Linked DNA regions of Homo sapiens. The protein of the gene in region 4 purifies or fractionates together with the protein of the main gene of each other region. This does not show direct contact. Each region holds a gene or a part of one and is shown on either strand. Other genes may lie near its edges.

The links.
Region 1: the proteins of PGAM1 (region 4) and HIBADH fractionate together in Homo sapiens (co-fractionation; one large-scale study listed by BioGRID). This does not show direct contact.
Region 2: the proteins of PGAM1 (region 4) and PHGDH fractionate together in Homo sapiens (co-fractionation; one large-scale study listed by BioGRID). This does not show direct contact.
Region 3: the proteins of PGAM1 (region 4) and NACA purify together in Homo sapiens (affinity purification with mass spectrometry, with the first as the bait; one large-scale study listed by BioGRID). This does not show direct contact.
Region 5: the proteins of PGAM1 (region 4) and TES fractionate together in Homo sapiens (co-fractionation; one large-scale study listed by BioGRID). This does not show direct contact.
Region 6: the proteins of PGAM1 (region 4) and CKMT1B fractionate together in Homo sapiens (co-fractionation; one large-scale study listed by BioGRID). This does not show direct contact.
Region 7: the proteins of PGAM1 (region 4) and CKMT1A fractionate together in Homo sapiens (co-fractionation; one large-scale study listed by BioGRID). This does not show direct contact.

Annotation. Positions count from the first base shown.
Region 1 is NC_000007.14:27,530,384-27,533,883, forward strand, and holds part of HIBADH (3-hydroxyisobutyrate dehydrogenase, mitochondrial isoform 1 precursor), read right to left. Parts: intron 966-3,500; coding exon 809-965; intron 1-808.
Region 2 is NC_000001.11:119,714,934-119,718,433, reverse strand, and holds part of PHGDH (D-3-phosphoglycerate dehydrogenase), read right to left. Parts: intron 1-3,500. UniProt on the Homo sapiens protein: Catalyzes the reversible oxidation of 3-phospho-D-glycerate to 3-phosphonooxypyruvate, the first step of the phosphorylated L-serine biosynthesis pathway.
Region 3 is NC_000012.12:56,715,300-56,718,799, reverse strand, and holds part of NACA (nascent polypeptide-associated complex subunit alpha), read left to right. Parts: coding exon 1-2,929; intron 2,930-3,500. UniProt on the Homo sapiens protein: Cardiac- and muscle-specific transcription factor. May act to regulate the expression of genes involved in the development of myotubes.
Region 4 is NC_000010.11:97,431,568-97,433,944, forward strand, and holds the end of PGAM1 (phosphoglycerate mutase 1), read left to right. Parts: intron 1-787; coding exon 788-957; 3' UTR 958-1,877; downstream 1,878-2,377. UniProt on the Homo sapiens protein: Catalyzes the interconversion of 2-phosphoglycerate and 3-phosphoglyceratea crucial step in glycolysis, by using 2,3-bisphosphoglycerate. Also catalyzes the interconversion of (2R)-2,3-bisphosphoglycerate and (2R)-3-phospho-glyceroyl phosphate.
Region 5 is NC_000007.14:116,238,039-116,241,538, forward strand, and holds part of TES (testin), read left to right. Parts: exon of another isoform or gene 1-294; intron 295-976; exon of another isoform or gene 977-1,211; intron 1,212-3,500. UniProt on the Homo sapiens protein: Scaffold protein that may play a role in cell adhesion, cell spreading and in the reorganization of the actin cytoskeleton. Plays a role in the regulation of cell proliferation. May act as a tumor suppressor. Inhibits tumor cell growth.
Region 6 is NC_000015.10:43,597,027-43,599,906, reverse strand, and holds the end of CKMT1B (creatine kinase U-type, mitochondrial precursor), read right to left. Parts: intron 2,532-2,880; exon of another isoform or gene 1,715-2,531; coding exon 1,580-1,714; intron 1,081-1,579; coding exon 955-1,080; intron 751-954; coding exon 634-750; 3' UTR 501-633; downstream 1-500. Other genes in the region: STRC (stereocilin precursor), read left to right, coding at 147-235. UniProt on the Homo sapiens protein: Reversibly catalyzes the transfer of phosphate between ATP and various phosphogens (e.g. creatine phosphate).
Region 7 is NC_000015.10:43,692,565-43,696,658, reverse strand, and holds the start of CKMT1A (creatine kinase U-type, mitochondrial isoform 1 precursor), read right to left. Parts: upstream 2,801-4,094; 5' UTR 2,609-2,800; coding exon 2,460-2,608; intron 2,133-2,459; exon of another isoform or gene 1,949-2,132; coding exon of another isoform or gene 1,856-1,948; coding exon 1,657-1,855; intron 1,454-1,656; coding exon 1,358-1,453; intron 972-1,357; coding exon 750-971; exon of another isoform or gene 749-749; intron 621-748; coding exon 535-620; exon of another isoform or gene 531-534; intron 420-530; coding exon 296-419; intron 1-295. UniProt on the Homo sapiens protein: Reversibly catalyzes the transfer of phosphate between ATP and various phosphogens (e.g. creatine phosphate).

The DNA.
Region 1 (3,500 bases), on a different chromosome or scaffold from region 4:
TTTAGTAGAAACTGGGTTTCACCATGTTAGCCAGGCTGGTCTCGAACTCCTGACCTCAGGTGATCTGCCCTCCTCGGCCTCCCAAAATGCTGGGATTAAAGGCATGAGCTATCGCGCCTGGCCGTATTCTTACTTTTTAATCAGGAAAAACAAACAAACAAACAAACAAACAAAAACCAACCCTCAACTGGGAGAAAATAAGCACTGCAGAAATCTGAAAGTTAGCTGGTCTAAAAATTATTTTCTGTAGTTGAGAACATAGACTTTCTAAAGTTGAGATCTCAAATAAGAGAAGGATGACAGTTTGCTTTTCCAATGACTTAACTAGTTTTTATATATAAATCCATATATTAAAATCTTAAAGCAGGAAGATGTATTTGGAAATCTATTATCAATGGGAAAATCCTCTCTTCGTGATGCATATATGCACTGCCAGTGTATTATTAACAATGAGAAAATTCTCACTGTTCTCATTTAAGAAGTTGGTAAATTAACATAAATTAATGGTGAACGAAATTTTACCGGCTCATATAAATAAACCCAAGTGCGCACACACACACACACGCACACACATACACACACACACATGGTCTGGCCCATTCTTCTCAACCAAAAGGCCAGGAATAAAAATGAACAAGATAAGGATTTTCATCTAAGTTAGGTTTTTACTCATTTTCAGTGAGAGTGAATATTCTAGTAATTTTGCCTCTTACCTGAGACATATGCTTTATTAAGAGAAAGAGAAGGAAGGTGTTATTGGACCGTGAAACGTTTTTCCTTCTCTCTTGGGTGTCTACATTTACCATACCTTAGCCATGAGTGTTGTTCCAAATCCACCCTGATAGTTATTAGCCGAGGGAACGCCATCCATCACTCCAGGTACAGGATTATAAGTGTCACTTGACCAACACCGTCCTGAGCTCATATTTAGGATTTTAGCCAGTAGTTTTGGGTCAAGCCCTAACCTGTCAAAGGTCAAAGAAAAGAAGTGTTAAGTGTCAAAATGTACACGTCGTGCGTGACTTATTTATGTATGGGGATGCTCCATCTTCTCTCTCCATTTATTATATGTCTTCTAAAATCTAAGCAGGTTGATACGAGAGTGAAGAATCCAATTTTGAATTATAGAGTACTAAACACTACTGGTTAAATAAGAATATTTTTGAGCCAGGACCATTTTGCATTTGGAGAAAACCTTCTATGTTATCCTATTATTAAGAAAAAATAATATACAATTGCATAAAAATATTGTTGGTTTATCACACTCATGGGTTTTCTAGTCTTTGGACATTACTACATTTATATGTCACATAAGAACCTTAAAACAATATGATAATTTAAATTCTACATTCTTTACCCACAAATGATATATTTCAGAAAGAAATACTGACAGATAAACGATGCATCATGGGAGTCTGTGTGAATGCATTTATATGTATGTTTATTCCTTTAGTTTTTATGAGAATAAATGCAAGAGATGAGCCAGGAGCTGTAAACGAGCTTAAGAAAAGTTATTATAAAAGAAGACTTTTTGCTGCAAACTTTTCCTTATTTATTAAATCTTTATTAGACAATCTTGCTTATGAAGCAAGTCTGCACAGAGTTGTGACATATGCTATCTATTCAGAGACATGCATTATAGTTCTGGGTCAACTGCTGATAAGGTTACTGATCCTGATAAAACAAAGCTTGCCCAAGCAGAAACATCATTTGTTCTATCACTGGGCTGATGGCATAAACGGCTGTTCAATGTGGACCCTAGAAAAAATAATAGAATCAAAATGCTCCATTACTTGGATTCTAAAGATATAATGCAGTTTGGGAAGCACAATTTTGCTAGGTATCACTGAATCAAGTTTCAAATAAAACTTTATTCCTAGCAATTTATTTGGTTTCTTTCATACACAGAGCCATTATGAAACAATTGTCATAAAAGCTTTCCACTTTTTCTTAAAACCAACCTCTTCCAGAAAATAAAAAAAACACTGAAAAGAGACACTTATGTAAATGTTAAACAAACTGTGCATCTTGGCACGCTCAGATTGTTTACTCTGTGTGTCTAAAACACATGCCTGTTTATTTCAAAATCTGAATATCATGGCCAATAAAACATTTTTTCAGATGCTAGAGCAGGGGGCTGAGGCTAACAGCCAAAAATATGTATGGAATTACCACATAATACAACTGTTATGTAATCAGGCTTTCAAGGGGTAGCTGTGGTTCCCAGACTGCTATGTGGCATATCATGTATCTGAATTCATATGGTGGCCCATGTTATAGTGATGGATTTTACTAAGGATTGTAACAGATACAGAAATTCAGTCTAAATTGGCTATCATTCATTCTGTTCAACTGTAGATTCCCAGAGAGAAACCCAACAGTTTCATTCATTCTTTTATAAAGATCCAAGTTCACTGCATGCATAGTATGCTACTGATGCTTGCTTTCTCCTTTTAAATAAGATTAGGCTATCAGTATGCTACTGTAGTATATCACTTAGGAAAAGATAAAGCCAGTGTGCTTAGGGAATAATTGTGAAAAGTAAAATCACAATTAACAATTAGTTAATTTGCTATAACTGCAAAGTACCAAATGTTCAAGAATGCATACATCTAATATGCTCCATAAGGAGAAAATACTTTTAAAGACTCCAAAACGTCACTTTCTCTCTCCATTTGAAATATAATTTCAGGGCTTCCTAACTTAGATCTTTTAAGATGGTTCATCATATTTAAAGCAGCAGAATTCCTTCCTTCTTTCTAATCTACCAGGTTACACTCAGTAGTAGCTCACAAGAGCTTTTACAGCTAAGGAAATTCACTCTTTTCTATAATATTCAACAAAATGGTGAGCAAAGCTAATTATCCTAACTTTGTAAAACCCTACATTTTTCTTGAATGTTCAAGGAAAAGTACTGGTATTGATTGATGGAAACCCTTTCTGGTGAACACATTACTATTTAGAAGCATCCTGAGGGGCACACACAAAAAATCAGGTGGCAGTTGTTTCATTCTCACTTTTCAAATCTGATGCTTCCCCACCGTGCTGATTCCCTTCAGGAGATAGTTATTCCCTCTCCACTTCCCTCCCCCTGCCCCCACCCGCAGCAAAGTGTATCATTAAAAAGAGCAAGTTAGAAGTGTTTTGCATTTCATCTTTCTGAGGATTCGTTCTCTGGCACATACATAACTGACAGTTAAAATTAGACATGATATTAAAATCAGTTACTGAAGTCCTCTGTTTTCCACTGTGCCCAAGGCTTGTAATGGTCTGAAACCAGCTAGAATACACAGTAATTGTCATTCAGAGTCTATCCTAGAACGTCATGCTTCACTGGAGAAGACTGAGTTTCCATTCGAAATCAACAAATTAATCCAAGACAGGTATCTGAAAGGGCAAGTTTAATAGGAAGCAGCTACTGGGCTCTCAACCATGATAAAATGTTATTGCTGTTTCCCTGTAAATTGGCTGGGAACATATGATACTTTCTGCATAAGAGC
Region 2 (3,500 bases), on a different chromosome or scaffold from region 4:
GAGATTTACTAGTAACAATAGCTACCATTTTTTGAGCAAGTACTTTACATCCAGCACTGTGCTTCACAACAATCCTAAGACAGATATTACAATTATCCCTATAGTACAGACAAGCAAACTGACACTTAAAGAATTTAGAGAACTTGCTGAAGTCACATAGCTAGGATATGGCAGAAGCTGGAATCAAGTCCAAATCTGTTGAGTTCCAACTACCTTCCAAATACAGCATTTAGACACCTAAACCAGGAGAGACATTGCCAGAAATCCTGTGGCTTCTCCAAGATGGCAGAAGCTCCCTAACAAAGGTCCCTGGATCTTCTGGTGACCTGCTCCTCCCAGCCAGCCTGCCTACTGGGGGATAATAGAAATAGGCACAAATGCCTCTGTCGAGAAGAGCAAGTTGCCTGTGGCCTGTAGGCAAGCTCACAGTTGATACTTCACAATGAAGTGTTTTATACACTTCCATTGAATAAATGAATTCAGTGATGAGAGGCCGGTAGAAACCACCCTCATCAGTCCCCCATCCTCACACCTTCACCCTCTTTCCCAAATAACTTTAACACTTCACATGCCTGAAAATTGCTCATCAGAAATCCCTTCCTTTGACTGTGATAAGGAGGCATAAGGTCTACTTCTAAGAGTGCTCAAGGATTTTCAAAAATCTTATTAAAAGAAGTTGAAAAAAAGCAGGAAAAACGTTCAGAAATTGACAAATCAGTCAACAGAACTAAATAGACACTAGACAAACAGAATATGTGAGAATTTAGAAAATAAAAAGCAGAACTCAAATTGATGCGGAAAGGAAGAACTAAACAAGAAATAATGTTATGAAAATTCAAGAAGAAAAATAATAGATTGCTACCTCACTTCAGATTTTTAAAAATCCAGATGAATTAAAGAATTTTTAAAAATATAAGCATTAAAAGAAAATGTCAGGGGATATTTTTATGACTCGGATTGGGAAAACCTTTCATAAGCAAGGCACAAATCTTAGAAACTCTGGAAGAAAATATTGACAAATCCAGTTACATTCAAATTTTAAACTTCTGCATGGAAAAAGATCCCATAAACAAAAGCAAGTAGTGGTCCTGATATGTGGAGAAAACTCCTTTCACCATATGTAACAGAACAAGGATTCATCACCAAAAGTGATAGAATTCCTACAAATCAACTTTTTTTTTTTTTTTTTTTTTTTTTTTTTGAGACAGAGTTTCACTCTTATTGCCCAGGCTGGAGTGCAATGGCGCGATCTTGGCTCACTGCAACCTCCGCCTCCCGGGTTCAAGCGATTCTCCTGCTTCAGCCTCCCGAGTAGCTGGGATTATAGGCATGCACCACAAATCCACTTTTTTAAAGGATAAAGAGCACAATAAAAAATAGATAAATATATAAATAGGCAATGCACAGAAGAACTACAAAGTGGTCACTAGTTTCACTAGTTTATAGACTCTTCAACGCTAGATATCAAGGAAATATAGATTTTTAAATATGATATTTTTGGGCATCATTTTGGCAGAAAGAAAATGAATAATATTCAGCATTGGTGAGCATGGAGGGAAACAGGAGTGTACACTGCATGACCTTTTTGGAGGGCAACTGGGCAGTGGGTGGGTAAGCACATTTTTAGTGGTCATTTCTTTGCAGCCAGCACTGACACCTTAGAAAATTGGTAACACACTGAGGAAACACAACCTCCTTTCAAGTGGTCAGCTCAGGACCAAAAGTCAAAGTTCAACTGACAAGAAGCAGGCATGGAGCAAGAGGAGAAGGGACCACCCAGAGTCATCATCTTATCACCTTGTCTCTCTAGCATCAAGTTCCAGAGCCCACATCTCAGGCCCAGTCCTGCTCCAGAGGCTCTACCAATCACTCCCTTGGGCCTTAAGGGTCCATCCTTCTTCAATGTTCTCTCCAAAGCTGCCAAAATGCTCCCCAAACCTTGCAAACCTGCTCCCCACAGGCAACACTAGCTGGAGAGCATGCAGACTCCCCAAAGTCCACCCATTCTTGTAGCCCCTGAACAAGCACAGAAACAGCACTATTGTTTCTTTCATGAGCATGGACTCTCTGGATGGATCTCCCTTGTAAAGATTTATGCTGTAGTCTCTTCACTTTTCCCTCAAACCAGCCTTCTTTGGTGCCAGGGAAACTAAGAGTCCCCAGTCAGACTCCTACAGATGAGCATCAGGTCTCACCTCTCCCAAGGGCAGAAACTGTCACTCAGGAGACCTTGGTCCCACATTAGAACCAGACATCCCACATCAGTCAGAGTTAATGAGCTTCCAAGGCCTCTTACAACCTCAACTACCCACTCTATCCACTCATTCAATCAGCACATATTCACAGACAGCCTGAATCCAACCTACCTCCTGCTGGACCCTCAAAGCCCCTGCACCCAAGCCCCTTCCCTCCTCACGCCACAACGCACCCCCTTCAAAGACTTTGCCCCAAGCTGTCTGCTCCTGTCCTCTACTTATGGAAACCACAGCCCTAACCAAATGCACCCATCTGCTCACATCCTCTGCAGTTTGCGATTAAAACTTCTCCAGTGTCCAGAGATCCTCCCCTCTCTTTGTCATTCCTTGGGTGAGGAAGCAAGTCTCTCTCTACACAGCACCAAATTCTGATGTTCACTGCCCTCTGCGTGTGGCTTCTGTGTCTGCACTGTGGCGGGAACAGGCACTTCCCACACTTCCTACAAGTCCTCCCGCTCCCCTGTCCTTAGCTGCTGTTCAGCTAGAAAACTGCTTGATTTATGGCTGTTCGAGACAAACTGCTAACTCAGCAATGGGAATCCATTGCCATTCCTCAGGTTCACACATGCTTCCTTTCCCAAGGGGACAAGCTTGGCCTAGGAGGTAATTCTAGCATTGCCATGCCTCTGACTTAAATCATAGGGCAAGACAATGAAACTATCCAGGTCATGTTCCCCAGCTATAGGGAAGGCAGGTCTACCCTGTTTTGCACAAGATGTGTGATCCTGATTAATTTGATGGTTATTTAACTTTTGCAAACTAAATCCTTGTGTAAAGGCTGGGAACTTCCTATTTTAAAGAAATTTGAAAAGAAATTTGGCATGGAAAGATTTATTCCCTTCTTAATCTTTCTTCAAGTACTGATATGAAGGTATGGATGTGCTTCAGTAAATTAAATACCATTACCAGTGTTTAGTTTAGTGGTCCTGACCAGCAATGCTACTTAATGAAACAGAAGAAAATACCAGAATGCATCATATGTAAAAAGAGTAAGTATTATTTCATAAAATTTGTGTGTGTCTGTGTGTACACATATGTATGAGTGTTTAAGTTATGACATAAAACAAATTTCTTATTGTGGGTCACAGTCAAAGTTTAAAAGCCACTGATACATGGTAATATTATTTAAATATTTTCCGGCATATTAGGTATATTTAAGATGTGAGTTCCAAACAAGATGCTTTATTATTTTAAGCCAACGTTTTCCAAACTTTTTTGACTGAGGTTCATTGTAAGAAACACATC
Region 3 (3,500 bases), on a different chromosome or scaffold from region 4:
CTATCCATGACTTCTTCCTCCCCCAAAAAGGCCCGAGCAACTCCAGCCCCTAAAGGAATCCCAGCTTCCCCATCCCCCAAAGGGGCCCCCACACCCCCAGCTGCAACTCCTCCCTCCCCTAAAGGAGGCCCAGCTACCCCATCCCCGAAATGGGCCCCCACACCCCCAGCTGCAACTCCTCCCTCCCCAAAAGGAGGTCCAGCTACTCCATCCCCCAAAGGGGCCCCCACACCCCCAGCTGCAACTCCTCCCTCCCCCAAAGGAGGTCCAGCTACTCCATCCCCCAAAGGGGCCCCCACACCCCCAGCTGTGACTCCTCCCTCCCCCAAAGGAAGTCCAGCAGCTACCCCATTCCCCAAAGGGGCATCCACACCCCCAGCTGCAACTCCTCCCTCCCCCAAAGGAAGTCCAGCAGCTACCCCACTCCCCAAAGGGGCCCCCACAACCCCAGCTGCAACTCTTCCCTCCCCAAAAGGAGGTCCAGCTACCCCATCCCTCAAGGGGGCCCCCACTCCCCCAGCTGCGACTCCTCCCTCCCCAAAAGGAGGCCCAGCTACCCCATCCCCCAAAGGGGCCCCCATGCCCCCAGCTGCAACTCCTCCCTCCCCAAAAGGAGGTCTAGCTACCCCACCCCACAAAGGGGCACCCACAACCCCAGCTGCAACTCCTCCCTCCCCAAAAGGAGGTCTAGCTACCCCACCCCCAAAAGGGGCCCCCACAACCCCAGCTGCAACTCCTCCTTCCCCAAAAGGAGGTCTAGCTACCCCACCCCCAAAAGGGGCCCCCACAACCCCAGCTGCAACTCCTCCTTCCCCAAAAGGAGGTCTAGCTACCCCATCCCCCAAAGGGGCCCCCACAACCCCAGCTGCAACTCCTCCCTCCCCAAAAGGAGGTCTAGCTACCCCATCCCCCAAAGGGGCCCCCACAACCCCAGCTGCAACTCCTCCCTCCCCAAAAGGAGGTCTGGCTACCCCATCCCCCAAAGGGGCCCCCACAACCCCAGCTGCAACTCCTCCCTCCCCAAAAGGAGGCCCAGCTACCCCACCCCCCAAAGGGGCCCCCACTCCCCCAGCTGCAACTCCTCCCTCCCTAAAAGGAGGTCTAGCTACCCCACCCCACAAAGGGGCCCCCAATCCCGCAGTTGTAACTCCTCCCTCTCCAAAAGGAGGCCCAGCTACCTCACCCCCCAAAGGGGCCCCCACTCCTCCAGCTGCAACTCCTCCCTCCCCAAAAGGAAGCCCAGGTACCCCACCCCCCAAAGGGGCCCCCACTCCCCCAGCTGTAACTCCTCCCTCCCCTAAAGGGACCCCTACTCTCCCAGCTACAACTCCCTCCTCTAAAGGAGGCCCAACTACTCCATCCTCCAAAGAGGGCCCCACTCCCCCAGCTGCAACCCCCTCCCACAAAGGAGGTCCCGCTATGACTCCTCCCTCCCCCAAAAGAGGACCAGCTATCCCATCTCCCAAAGGGGACCCCACTTCCCCAGCAGTGATTCCTCTCTCCCCCAAAAAGGCTCCAGCAACTCCAGTCACCAGAGAAGGCGCAGCCACCCCATCCAAAGGAGATCTCACTCCCCCAGCAGTGACTCCTGTCTCCCTCAAAAAGGCCCCAGCAACTTCAGCCCCCAAAGGAGGCCCAGCTACCCCATCCTCCAAAGGGGATCCCACCCTCCCAGCAGTGACTCCTCCTTCCCCCAAGGAGCCCCCAGCCCCCAAACAAGTTGCCACTTCTTCCTCTCCCAAAAAGGCCCCAGCAACTCCAGCCCCCATGGGGGCCCCCACTCTGCCAGCTGTGATTCCTTCTTCCCCCAAAGAGGTCCCAGCTACCCCATCCTCCAGAAGGGACCCCATTGCCCCAACAGCGACTCTTCTCTCTAAAAAGACCCCAGCAACTCTAGCCCCCAAAGAGGCCCTCATTCCCCCAGCTATGACTGTTCCCTCCCCTAAAAAGACCCCAGCAATTCCAACCCCCAAAGAAGCCCCAGCTACCCCATCCTCCAAAGAGGCCTCCAGTCCCCCAGCAGTGACTCCTTCCACTTACAAAGGGGCCCCATCCCCCAAAGAGCTCCTCATTCCACCAGCTGTGACTTCTCCTTCCCCCAAAGAGGCACCTACTCCTCCAGCTGTGACTCCTCCATCCCCCGAAAAGGGCCCAGCAACTCCAGCCCCCAAAGGGACTCCCACTTCCCCACCTGTGACTCCTTCCTCCCTCAAAGACTCCCCTACTTCCCCAGCTTCTGTCACATGTAAAATGGGGGCCACTGTTCCTCAAGCATCTAAAGGGCTTCCAGCAAAGAAAGGCCCCACAGCTCTGAAAGAAGTACTTGTTGCCCCAGCTCCAGAAAGCACGCCAATCATCACAGCTCCCACTCGGAAAGGTCCACAGACCAAAAAGAGTTCTGCTACTTCACCTCCTATATGCCCAGATCCCTCAGCTAAGAATGGTTCTAAAGGACCCCTTTCCACAGTGGCTCCAGCCCCTCTACTCCCTGTTCAGAAAGACTCTTCAAAGACAGCAAAAGGCAAAGATGCTTCTCATTCCCCAAAGGGCCCCTTGGCTCCTCCTGAGTCTAAGGCGTCCACCCCTCTAACAGCAGCTGCCTTTGAGAAGGTCCTTCCTAAACCTGAATCAGCATCTGTCTCTGCAGCACCCTCCCCACCAGTCTCTCTGCCTCTTGCTCCCTCCCCAGTTCCCACTCTGCCTCCTAAACAGCAATTTCTGCCGTCCTCTCCTGGGCTGGTGTTGGAATCACCCTCTAAACCCCTTGCCCCTGCTGATGAGGATGAGCTGCTGCCTCTGATTCCCCCGGAACCAATCTCTGGGGGAGTGCCTTTCCAGTCGGTCCTCGTCAACATGCCCACCCCTAAATCTGCTGGAATCCCTGTCCCAACCCCCTCTGCCAAGCAACCTGTTACGAAGAACAACAAGGGTATTTGCCTTGGTTTGCCGTGTGCATGGTGTGTCTGTCGTCCACACCCCTCTTGGGCGCTACCCACCAATACTAACCCTGTGATGCGCCGCTTTCTCCAGTGAATCTGCTTGGGTTTGGATGTAGAACATAGAATGATAATTTTAAATGCAAAAGTTCTAGGAATATGAAACCAAATCTTGGTTTTCATTACTTCAGATAGATACATAGTACATTGTGTATCATTTTTGTGTAATGTGGCCCGGACTACCCTGAGCCTGCCATGCCATCTATTTTACCTAATTGATCTGACATTGAAAACCAAGACCTGCCAGACCTTTTCATTTGCTCTAATCCCTACCACATCACTAACTAACCTTGTCCCTGGGCCTGAGATTTGGTAAAATTATTGGAGAATTGAACTATTTGTATTTATTTTTCCATTATTAGACTTAGTAATGACCAGTTGCCCAGGGACTCCCTTTTCATAAAAATGTAGAAATCTGTTTTTCCTAGCCTGAAAATGGTGCAGGTGTATGCTTTTTTTCCTCAGTAGTCTTTACTGATGCTTGGCCTTTGAATTGAAAGAAAT
Region 4 (2,377 bases):
CCAGGAGTTTGAGACAGCCTGGGCAACATAGTAAGACTGCATCTCTACAAAATTTTAAAAGGCCAAGCACAGTGGTTCATGCCTGTACTATCAGCACCTTGGGAGGCCAGGAGTTCAAAACCAGCCTGAGCAACAAAGCAAGACCTTGTCTGTACAAAAGAAAAATGAAAAATTAGCTTGATGTGGTGATGCTCATCTGTAGTCCCAGCTACTCAGGAGGCTGAGGCGGGAGATCGCTTGAGCCCAGCAGTTTGAGGTTATAGTGAGGTATGATTGTGCCACTACATTCTAGCCTGGGTGAGAGAGTAAGACCTTGTCTCTTAAAAAAAAAAAAAAGGAAAACAAATATATATAAAAGAAAAAATTCTCCTTAGTCACAACCAGGCACAACTTTACACATGAATCTCAATTTGCATCTTCATCCCCGAGGGCCTAGAGGCCCACGTGTGCTGATTTTTGGTTGGATGGGCTGTACAGGGTATTTGAGATGTGTAGTCTTGCTTCACTGTGGGCTTCTAGATCCCACTTTGGTAGAGATATCTGGCCATATACCTTGCTGTAGTTTGTTGGTGGTCTATCTTGTATACCTTTTCTTGCTTTTCAGTTTAATGGCTGAGAAATAAGTATGGTGGGGGCCATTCCCTGGGTTCAGAACTACTATAAAGATCAGAAAGGGTGTCTTATTTTAATTTCTGTCAAAGTCCTTTATCACCTGGAGGACAAAGTAAACCTGGAGGGGTGATGTGGATTTATGTCTTGTGTGGCTGATGATGGTGGATGTTTTCAGGTCTCTCTGAAGAGGCTATCATGGAGCTGAACCTGCCGACTGGTATTCCCATTGTCTATGAATTGGACAAGAACTTGAAGCCTATCAAGCCCATGCAGTTTCTGGGGGATGAAGAGACGGTGCGCAAAGCCATGGAAGCTGTGGCTGCCCAGGGCAAGGCCAAGAAGTGAAGGCCGGCGGGGAGGATACTGTCCCCAGGAGCACCCTCCCTGCCCGTCTTGTCCCTCTGCCCCTCCCACCTGCACATGTCACACTGACCACATCTGTAGACATCTTGAGTTGTAGCTGCAGACGGGGACCAGTGGCTCCCATTTTCATTTTAGCCATTTTGTCGCCTGCACCCACTCCCTTCATACAATCTAGTCAGAATAGCAGTTCTAGAGCACAGGTTCTCAGTCTAAGCTATGGAAAAGCTCCCCTTATCCAACAGAGTTTAAAAGTAGTGACTTGGGTTTTTGCGAGTGCTTTGTTTACTAAGGACTTTGGGGAGGAACCATGCTAAGCCATGACCAGTGAGGAGAAGCAACAGAGCCTGTCTGTCCCCATGAGCGGAGTCTGTCCTCTGCTCTTCTGCAGTCAGGTCACTGCCTACTGCCTGGGGGCTCTAGTCATTCCAGTGGAAGACGAATGTAACCTGCGTGGTGATGTGACAACTGTTTCCTCCCTGACCCCAGAGGATCTGGCTCTAGGTTGGGATCAATCCTGAATTTCGTTATGTGTTAATTTACTTTTATTAAAAAAGTATAGTATATATAATACAAAACAATAACCCTTCTGGGGTTTCTTGTGGCGGTTGAAATAGTCCCACATGTGGTCATCAGAAAATAAGCCATTCCTCATACCAATATAGGATCAGCTCCTTGACCTCTGAGGGGCAGGAGTGCTTCCTGGTGTGTGTATTAGAATCCCTTCCTGCCTTGTTTCATGGCAGTGAAATGCCTCTTGGTCCTGTCCAAGTGTATCTTTCACTGATTTCTGAATCATGTTCTAGTTGCTTGACCCTGCCACATGGGTCCAGTGTTCATCTGAGCATAACTGTACTAAATCCTTTTTCCATATCAGTATAATAAAGGAGTGATGTGCAATAGCTTCTTGTGTGATGTGGAAGACCTTATCTGAGGAAACTTTAGCATTTAACTTGAAATGTCTCTCACTGCCCTAGTCCTTGTGTGGCAGTTTGTTTTAGGACATCCAGTCACAACTTTACACGGTTGGTCAAAAAATGACGCATCTCCTTGGGGTTTTCACGTCAGCCTGGTGAGCTGAGGTGGTGGTGGGAGGCCCTCCTGGCCAAGCCCTCCATTCACGTTGCCCCCTGCAGCTCTTGCTTGGTGCTCCCCTGATTGGAAAGTCACATTCTGAACTCCATTATATCCTCTTTAGAGTAAGTAAAGTCTGCTTTTTGTTTTTTCTTTTTGAGACAGCCTCGCTCCGTCGCCCATGCTTGAGTGCAGTGGCATGATCTCAGCTCACTGCAGCCTCCCCCTCCTGTGTTCAAGCAAGCCTCCCACCTCAGCCTCCTGAGTAGCTGGGACCACAGGCATGTGCCACCATGCTTGCTTAATTTCTGTATTTTTAGTAGAGACGGGG
Region 5 (3,500 bases), on a different chromosome or scaffold from region 4:
ACCCCCTTCCCCTGCTTCCACATACCCCCAAGTTGTTAGGAATCATTTTCCTTTTTATCACCTTGTATACTTACAGAAAGCCAGGAGATAAATACCCAGACCTCATTCTTCATCACTCTGATTTTCTGCTGGCACCTCCCATTGTCCCATTGCCAGTGACAAGGGATCCCACAGGTGTAGTCCTTAAGGATCAGCCTTCTGGGAAATAGCACAGAGTACTGAGGCATGGAGAATGAATCTGGAGAGGTGAATGGAAGATGCCGGATCAAGGTGTATCACCATAGTTGCAGGAGACTAAAAATTAATTATTAGGAATTTAGAGTGAACTTGTAACTTAACTAGTCTAACCTCATTTTACAGATCAAAGACCTAAACCAAAGGAAGTTAAAATGACTTGTTTGAGCCCATGAGTTATTAATAATATAATTTGTGAATGATTTCTATGTGTCACACACCAGTAAGCACTTGTAATAATTTTCTACTGCTGCATAACAAATTACTACAAACTTTGCAAGTTAAAGCAACAACTGTTAACTCAACATCCATCATTATTATTATTATTATTATTATTATTATTTTTGAGATGGGGTTTCACCCTTGTTGCCCAGGCTGGAGTGCAATGGTGCGATCTCGGCTCACTGCAACCTCTGCCTCCTAGGTTCAAGTGATTCTCCTGCCTGCCTCCCGAGTATCTGGGATTACAGGCGCCCGCCACCACGCCCAGCTAATTTTTTCTATTTTTAGTAGAGACGGGGTTTCACCATGTTGGCCAGGCTGGTCTCAAACCCCTGACCTCAGCAGATCCACCAGCCTCAGCCTCCCAAAGTGCTGGGATTACAGACATGAGCCACTGTGCCCAGCCAACATCCATTATTTTTCAGGTTAGAAGTCTGGGATAGGGGAGCTGGCTTAGCTGTCTATGCTTAGCACCTCAAAAAGCTGAAATGAAGGTGTTGGCCAGGCTAAAAGTACTCACCTTTAAGTGCGAGGGAAGAATCTGCTTTCAAGCTCATTCTTGTTGGTAGAATCTATTTTCTGTGGTTGGAGAACCAAGGTCCCTGTTTCCTTGTTGGCTGTCAGCTGGGGGCTGGCTACTCTCAGCTTCTAGAAACCAGTCACATTCATTGAGGTACAATGCCTTCCATCTTCAAAGCCAGCACCACTGCTTAGAATCCTTCCTGCACCTCACATGCCTCCAACTTCCTCTTCTGCTGCGAGCCAGAGAAAATTCATTGCTTTTTAAGGGCTCACATGATTAGAGTAGGCACGCCTGGAAAATCTCCCATTTGCCATATAAAAGTAACATAATCATGAAAGTAACACCAGGGGACAGAAGTCATAGGGGCCATGTTAACATTCTGCTTACCACAGCACTGTATGTACCTGATTGTACCTAATCCTCCTAATATTTATTTTATTATGTATGAGAAATCAAAGACGTAGGAAAGTTAAATAACTTACTAAAGTTATGGCTTATAGATGGCAGAGCTGAATTTGAACTCAGAGTTTTCCAAAACCTTTCTCCATGGCAGAGTAGATATTAGAATGCACATTTTTCACTCTCAGGGCCAGTGAACTTTGAACTGCACCAGGCTGTCGCCTCTGAAGTGTGATTGTTGTGACACAGACATCCTTGTGGACAAAGGTGTACTTTTACTGTGAGCTCTCTCCTTTTTCAGTGTGCCCATGATTACAACAGTAGAGGAAAATAAAAGGTTCAGGAAGCCTAATAATGACCCAATAAGAAACACTATCTGCTGGGAATGCTTTCAAGTAATATATAGAGATAAAGAGTGTTTATTGAAATGTATGACACAGACCCAAGGTTTCCAGGAGTTTATAGCCAGTTATTTCACATTGAAGGTATAATTAATATAATTGCAACCATGTCATTTATCATATTAAGTAACAGAATTATTGTTTTGCTTTACCTTTGTTAAAGTCTCCTAATAAAACAGTTGCATTTTATTAAAAATGCGTTACTTGATTATAACATACATCTGTTCAGAATTTCTGATTGATTTAGAGCTGGGTGAAAACTAAAAATTCCCTACCATAAATGGATTAATACTTGTGTTGAATTCTGTCACAGAGGCCCACACTTAAATCCATATATGTATATCCCTGTTACAAAAGGGCAGCTTCCAACCCTTTTAAATTATGGTTTGTAGCAATGCCATGGCCGTGCTTTTAAATCACTGTGAATGCTGGCAGCATGTCAAAGCACTCTAGTTTCTACTGCTTGCCTTGGAAAAATAGTAAGTTTTACAAATAGTGATACAAAAAAATTTCTTTTGGGAGAATAAAGGATAGTTTCTTGATTTTTTTCAGCTTGAAAATGTAAATATGTTTATTTGTCTGAGGCAATACTTTTGGTAGTTTTGTTCTTGCATTCGCTCTCCCAGGCTCGCTCTTTCTCTCTCTCTCACTCCTTCCCTCCCCCTCGCTCCTCCCTTTCCTCCATACATATTAATGTTTGCATATATATGTGTTAATGGTGCTAAATTCTTTTTGTACAAACAACTTTTTATACAAATAACCCTCCTCCATCCCCACACCTTAGAGCTTCCCAATCTGCCAATCCACCTTTGCACCTTTTTAAAAGAATCATGAAAAAGACTTTTAAACTAACTTAATTCTGAATCCCCTTCCCTTTTTTTCCCCATAGAACTTTTCTTAACATCCTATGGAGAATCTGGAGAGAGAACTGCTCAATAGGACAGTTTAGAAAATTTAGAGGTTTGAAAACTGTGTTAAATATGGGAACTGATTTATATACTCTCTTAAAACTATCAACTCAGTATAGCACAAATAAATAAACAAGCTGTTTAAATCTATATATATCATCAGAAGTTACTTATGGATCATCTGATGAAAGATAATCCACACACCGTGCAAACAGCCCCTTGCACATGGGTATTGTGCTCACCCATACTCTGTTTGTGTTTTTGTTTTAGGTTTGTATAAAACCACGTTTTTAAAGTTCTTCATTTTCTTAAGGGTAGAATCTGGGTTAGTTTAGGCTGAAATTGAATATGTGATAAACGTCCCACTTATTCTCAGGCCGCTCTTGGATAACAAGATCACAGTGGCATCCTTTTCTTCTCCAATTCCACAACAAGGTTTTTCTTTTAATAAATGTATTGGATTGCTTCCAAATGACTTTGAAAGTTTTTATAGGTATTTCTAAAAGTAAAATGTTTTAGTTTAAATGTGGGAGACTCAAATATAAAACACTGTAGATTAGAACTCTAAGAAAAATATTTTTAAAACCTAAAACTAGGTAAGTGGTAATAGCACAGATTTCCACAATAGATAGCTCCTGGCACCTGGTGCTGATTTTATAGTATGTTTTCTTGCAGAGTAGTTTGTAGCTGGCTCTTCTCCTTGTAGAAATGGAGCTCCAGTGTAAGGCTTCTGGAAGGGATGTGGTCATCCCAACTGTTTTAATGATGACAGCTCTAGTTGAAGAGCCATCCCACCCTTCTTGGGTCACATTC
Region 6 (2,880 bases), on a different chromosome or scaffold from region 4:
CCCTAATTTGGTGCTGTCTGGCTCTTAGAGTGCACCCAGGGAGATCCCTGGAGTGAAGGAGTCTACAGGCAGAGCGCTAATTTCCAAGTATCAATGCTCCTGGAGAGCTGAGTTGTGATATTACTCCCATTCCCTGTCTATTATAGGTCGAAGTACAGCCTGGGGCCTCCAGGACTGGTCACGACCTTCCTGGTCCCTGGTATTGACTATCAGCTTCCTTGGCCACCTGCTATGAGCCTGTCTCTACAGTAGAAGGAGATTGTGGGGAGAGAAATCTTAAGTCATAATGAATAAAGTGCAAACAGAAGTGCATCCTGATTATTTTCAGAAGCTGATGAGGAATATGGGTAAAATGTTAATGCTTTCCACCCACCTGAGAATCAGTGTTCCTGGGTTGCCATATCTGGAGTCTCTTTCCATCATAAATAATCCCACTGCCTCTTTTCATTTCCTGAAGGCTGCTCCCTCCTCACCCCACCATTAGAAGTAACACAGACAGCTGCAGCATAGCAAGGAGTCTTTACTAGGATGGAGGCAGGGGATGCGGGGGCAGGTCCAGAGCAAGTAGAATGGGCCATCATTAGAATGAGCAGAACTCCTGGGAATCTTGAGTCATCAGCTGGCGATGGGGAGTTAATGCTTGGTGTGGATGACAGGTGTGGGGATGCGGATATCCTGGCCTCTCTCCAGACGCCGTTCACAATCAATCAAATAGTTTACTCCATCGATGACCAGTTGCACCAGCTCCACCTAAGGGACACTAATCTTTGATCTGCTTCCTACAGTCTGAGTTTTTCTTTATCACTGACTGACTTGCCTGCTCATTTCCAATTGCCTCCCCACTCAACCTGAATTTCATTTCAGATTATCTTACATCCCGGAGGCTCACTCACTGCCATATTTCGGCCCTCGCAGACCTATACCTCTCCTTGTCCTAATCCCTTAGGATCTCACCTCTGATTTGCCTAGTCGGTCCAAATTAGAAATATCAAAGACACCGCCTGTAGCAGCAGTGTCCACTCCTCCAGTACCACGTTTTTGGAGTCTTAGGTTCTCCAGGATCTTTGGGAAGCGGCTATCCTAGAGAGGAGATAGGGATTGGGAGCAGGGTCAATAGAGGCAGAGACTAGTCCTACCTGAAAGAGCCCTGAACCTGCTCAGAGCTCTGTCTCCTGAACTTTTTTTTTCCTTTTTTCTTTTTTCTTTTTTAATTTTTTTTAGACAGGGTCTCTCTCTGTCACCCAGGCTGGAGTGATCACAGCTCACTGAAGCCTCGACTTCCCAGGCTTAAGTGATCCTCTCACCTCAGCCTCCACTACACCCAGCTAACTTTTGTATTTGTAGTAGAGATGGGGTTTCACCAGGTTGCCCAGGCTGGTCTTGAACTCCTGGGCTCAAGTAATCTGCCTGCCTTGGCCTCCCAAGTGTTGGGATTAGAGGCATGAGCCACTGTGCCTGGCCTGTCCTCTGACCCTTTAGCCACAACATGTTTGGCTCCTTTCCAAAGGGTCCACTCCCTCCCCATCCACAACCCACCCTTCCTTACTCACACCCCTCTGTAACCCCACAACTCCTTTACTTTGCTTAGCAGGGGCAGTTTGATGTGCACTCCTGCCCGAAGTCCAGTGCCCAGGTTAGATGGACAGGTCAAGATGTATCCCAAACGCTCATTCCACATGAACTCCCAGCCACGTTCTTGGATAAGTCTCTCCACCTGAGTCCACAAAGGTTTTGTTAACGAAAAATCAGGGATATTTCATTAACCCTGGACCCTCCCTTAGCTAGACCCACAAGAACACTAGAAATATGTCTAGAACAGAAACTTGGCTGTGAATGAATGACATTGGTCTTTTTTTAAATGAAAAAGGTTTGTTATTGTTTTCATGCATGCATGATGCAAAATTATGATGTGCATAATAATGAGATTGTGAAAAAATATCTTATGTGGAAGAAGAAAACTCGAAGGAGTGGTGTATTAAGGATGATCTAGGGAAATGAACAGAGGTGGTAAACTGAACTGAGAGATGACTGATTATTCAATGAGGTCTGCATGCATCGATTATCTTTGCTTTGCTAATGAGCCTAGAGCTTAGAAGGGTCCCTTCAGACAGAAGATGAAGGTGTAAGCTTTGCCAGGAAGAGGTAAGATAACATTCTGTTAGCTGTGAACGGAGCACCTGTGTGAATGCAGAGAAAGATGAAAACAGAGCAGAAAAGCCAGATTCATAGGAATAGGGGGCGGGGGGAAGGCGTTTGGCTTCACTTAACCATGTAGTCATGAAGATGACTATTAGAGTTCAAGAGACAAGGGATCTAGCAGAATGATGGTCACAAAGACCACAACCCAACATGAGTAAAGGGATCCTCTTTATAGTTCAGAAGGAACCATGCCATAGGGGATATCTTACATGCTGAACATGGGGGGAAACTCTTCCATCCAGAATAATATTGCAGCTAACACTTTAACACTTATTAAGCACTTACTGTGGACCAAGTACTTTACCTGTATTTCACTTAATCCCCACAACAACCTAAAATGTAGAAAATCTCATTATCCCAATTTTACAGATGAGGAAACTGAGGCATATAATTTAAAGGTACTTCCCTACCCACTCATAGTCAGAATATGTTATCTATTACTTGCCAAAAATAGTAGAAACTTCTCAGAATCTAAAAGAGGAGCTCTTTTTCTTTGCAAACCTAAAATAGAACTGTATGTTTGAGAACATACAGTAAGAATTGAATTGAGTTTATGGGGATTTCTAATGTAGACTTGAATACGGAGACCCAATCCATGTAGGATTGATGATTCAGTTCAACCTCTCATCTAGAGCCACATATTCTAGAACTTGAACCATTCTATCCTCCACCTTCCCCAGT
Region 7 (4,094 bases), on a different chromosome or scaffold from region 4:
CACACATCCCAGGCACTGACGTGCCATCTCAGTTATTCCTTCTTTGCATTACCTGCCTTCTTCACTTTCTAAGGTTCCTGACACTCTTTTCCTAATCTTAGTGTGACCACATGTCCTGGTTTTCCCAGTATGGTCCCAGCTGGTTTATACCTTTAGTCCTAGAGTGAGTCCTAGGTAGTCCTTTTTACCATCAGACATGTCTTGGGTTGGTTGATAAATTACATAATCTATTTATGCTACTCTTTGGTTTTCCTTATGTCCTCCCACCTAGCTCCCCTACACAATCTTCTCTAACCTCTTTGAGGCCTCGGCAGAATCTTTCAAACACTCTCTTCATGTTACCACCCTTCTCCATGGAGATCACCCGTGTATGATCCTCCTCATTCACCCAGATCAGGAAGCTCTTCTCATTGTTGTGCCTGAGGGCCGGAGAGGGACAGTGATCAAGAGGCAAGGCAAGAATTGGGAGAGATAGAGGGAAAAAAAGCATTTATGAGGGCATGAAGACAAAAGAGGTAATGAGCAGCTTCATACCAAATTCCACGAGCATCTGGCCAGTCTCGAGCCATTCCTGCTGCAGTCAGCAACGGGGACACAGGCTTATCAAACAGAAAGTGGTCCTGGGAAGAGTAACGGGACTTGGGTTAAGAATCTTCATGGTGGCCCCTGGGCCTTTCAGAGCCCATGTCTCATCTGGCCCAGCCTTCCCCATCTGCTCCCACCAACCAGCACCCTCTTAAGGCCCTCACATCAATAAGCTGCTGCTGTTCAGCCTCTGTCATCTCACTGAGCCTATAGTAACGTCCAGCCAGGTCACCCTTCAGGCCACTCAGTGCATCCACCACAACACGTTCCACCTCTCGTCGCTCTGCTCGAGTGCAAGCTGGAGGCAGACTGAGTCCTCGGATGCTTCGGCCAGTTCTGACTCTAGAGGACAATACATACCTCTCATCAAAGTAGCCAGAACGGATCTGGGAGATAAGGGAAATGAATGTAAGTCACAGAAACACGGTGGGAACTGAGGGCCCCTGGGAAAGGAGAGACCTTCCTTAGGCATTAGAGGACTCTTTGTGCATTCTTCCTGCATGCATTGGAAGAAGAGGCCCTTTGGGAAAGCACTGGAATTGAAGGGGGCATTGCAGACCTTTCCCCAAACCACCCACCTTGGGTCATGGTCATTCTTATCTATCCTTCCATCTCCATATATGCTGCCCCTTAAGATATGATTCTTTCCTTACATTAAGATTAAAAGCTCAGCTGTATAATGACCATGAGTCAGGAAATAAGGTGAAGGGGTTGGAGATACAGAGTGTTGTACACAGGCAATGCAAATCAGAAGTGGGATATTTGAACTCACTTTACTGGCATCTAGATCCGTGGTGTGCTTCATTGTCCGGGGGTCATATCCATTGTGTCGCTCTTGGATCACAGGGTCAAACAGGTCAGCAAATACCTAAGGGGAGTTAAGAGGGAGAGATGGTTAAGGAGAGGGAATCCCTCCCCAGACTTCAATTGTGCATTGATTTCACTGGTTCAGAAAACTTAAGTATGGGGGGCTCAGAGTCTTGGGGGAAAGTGAGAGGTCTTTAGGGGAAAGGAGCTGGGATTACTGGGAAGATGAATTGGATCATCAGGGAGACTCTGGGGACCCCCTACCTCATAGGTCTCCTCATCTCCAGCCACCATGCCCACAGTCTTGATGAAGGGGTGGCCAGGGTTGTCCACGCCAGTCTGGATACACTGATCTAGCGTCCAACCAGTGGGTGTGGTCTTGTCGCAGAGCCGTGCATAGACTGCTGGGGTCAGGTGACTGGCCATGCAGTTGTTGTGCTTTCGGAGGTCTGGGTACTCAGCGCTGGGGAGGGGGTACCCAGTAACCATGGAGGGAGGGCACAGACGCCTAGACCTAGTGCAGTTACCTGGGAGCTGTCCAGTTGGCCATGTCTGGCTTTGCTCCGCGGGAGGAGGGGGAATTAGAAAGAGGGTAAACCTTGGTAATCTCTTTAGGGACTTTCAGAGTCTATGCTTTCCTAATAGTTCTAGTTGCCTCTGGCTGGCCAGCTCAGTTTCTTCAGATCTGCTCAGTTCTTTCCTCCCATGACACAACACTACGGATGGAGGAGGGGAAAAGCCTAAGGAGAGGAATTGAGGAAATGAGGGAAGGAGATGGAGGGGAGCGAAAAGGATAGTTCCTGGCTTTACAATTAGGGATTTGGGCAGCCAGTGCAGCTAGAACTCGTAGGGCCAGAGCTGGTCTTGGCAGGTCCCCAGGAATGTTCTTGCTTTATGGTTTTGGCCCCCACCCCCACCCCACTGAGGTCTGCAGACTGCACAGCCCTCCAGCTCCAGGGCCTTCGTGATTATAGCCCTTCTCTGTTGCCCGGATTCTCACTTCTACCCGCACCTTCGTTCCCATCACCTCCTGCCCCCGCCTCCTCCCGCGCCTCAGGCACTGTTACCTCGGGGGATACAGCCTCCGTCGTTCACTGGCAGCTCGTACAGGTTCCGGTCGGAGCAGAAACCCAGCGGCTAGAGACCCCGCTCCGGCCAAAGCCAGGAGCCTGAGTCCCGGGCGGGCGGACAGCAGACGGGAGAAGGGACCAGCCATGGCTTGAGGTCTGGCTACGGGATCCTGGAGTAGGCGCTGGCGCAAGATAAGATCCGGAACAGGGAGGGAGGATGCAACCGGATAGACCGAGGGCCGGAGCTAGGTCCGAGGCTGCAGCCGAAATGGGGGTCGGATTGGAGGCTGGAGCCGGAATGGGAGCCGGTGCCAATCAGACTGCAGGAGAGGCGCAATGAGCTAGTGGCAGGCGGGCGGGCGGAGGAGAGGGAGGCCCCAGCCGCAGTCTCCAGGGGTGGGGCTCCCCCAGGCCCCGCCTTCCCGCCTGCCACCGCGCTAGGTGCGCGAGGGCAGGGGTGGGCAGCACCCGCCAGGTAATTAGCGGGACCTGAGACTCGCGCGTCTAAAGCCGGGGATGTAGCCCCCTCCCGCCCCGGGGATGTGGCCGCCCAGATTTCAGCACCAAGTGGAGGACAGCACCCACGTGGACTAGCTGAACCCAACACCCTTCCCCCACACCCCTCGGTTTAAGCTGAAACTCGATCCGTCTACCCTGTGGGTGTGCAAGGGTGACACTGCCCAACCTTTCCTCTGCTTTCGGCCTGCCCCAGCCACCTCTTCGGTCTCCCGGGGGCAGCCGCGGGGAAACCGCGGAATAAACACAGATACCAGAGGAGGATATGGAGAAAGCACAGGGTTAGAGGCAGGCACTGGGAAAGACACCCACTGGCTCAAGGTCACCTTTTCCTTAGAACCAGGAAGAGGAGCAAGGTGCTTCCTTGCCACCTCTGTGCACGCCTTACAAAGTTGAGAAAGGACTCCCTGGGAGGAACCAAGGAAATATTAATTCTTATGCCATCTGTGCTGTGTCCTCCACCTCCATTCTGCACCCAAGTCTGAAGCCCTGTTATTTCCTGCCTCTGCTTCTCATGATCCCCCACTTTTTGTTTTCCTTTTGTCTCTCCCACTTTCCTCCACGTCCCCTACCTCACCTTTGATCTTTTACTTCTCTGCGTCTTTTCCAGGCTCAGATGTGTTTGCTGCTCACAGGATGCCCTCTGCGTTTTCTCGGCAAGCTTGCCCACCTGTTGGTGGTGCTGGGTGTGGGGGTGGGCAGGGAATCGTTAGTTTCCTCCTCCTCCTCTCCCTTGGCTTCTCTCTCCGTAGTTCCTAGTTCCTGTGCTGGAGGAGAAGGTAAAGTGAGGTGAAGGGTGTGGTGAGATGACTGGGTGTGGGACTGGAACAGGCAGGCACAGGTCTCCAGACACCACATGTGTTTCCTCTCTTGTCTCCCTAATGCTGTTTAATCCAGAGAGTAAAGGCGAGTGGTGTACAAAGGCATGAGGTGGTCAGGGAATCTCTGCCTTCCTCGTGGTCCCCTCTGCTGCTCTCTCTCTCCTCGTGAAACACATATTCAGATTTGAGAGGGCTTTGTTTCCCAGCTCCAGGTATGATTTGACCTTTGTCCTGGTAGCAAGGAGAATGAATGCTAGAGTTGAAATAGAGATGAGGGGCTTCAGCGTGGAGGGTC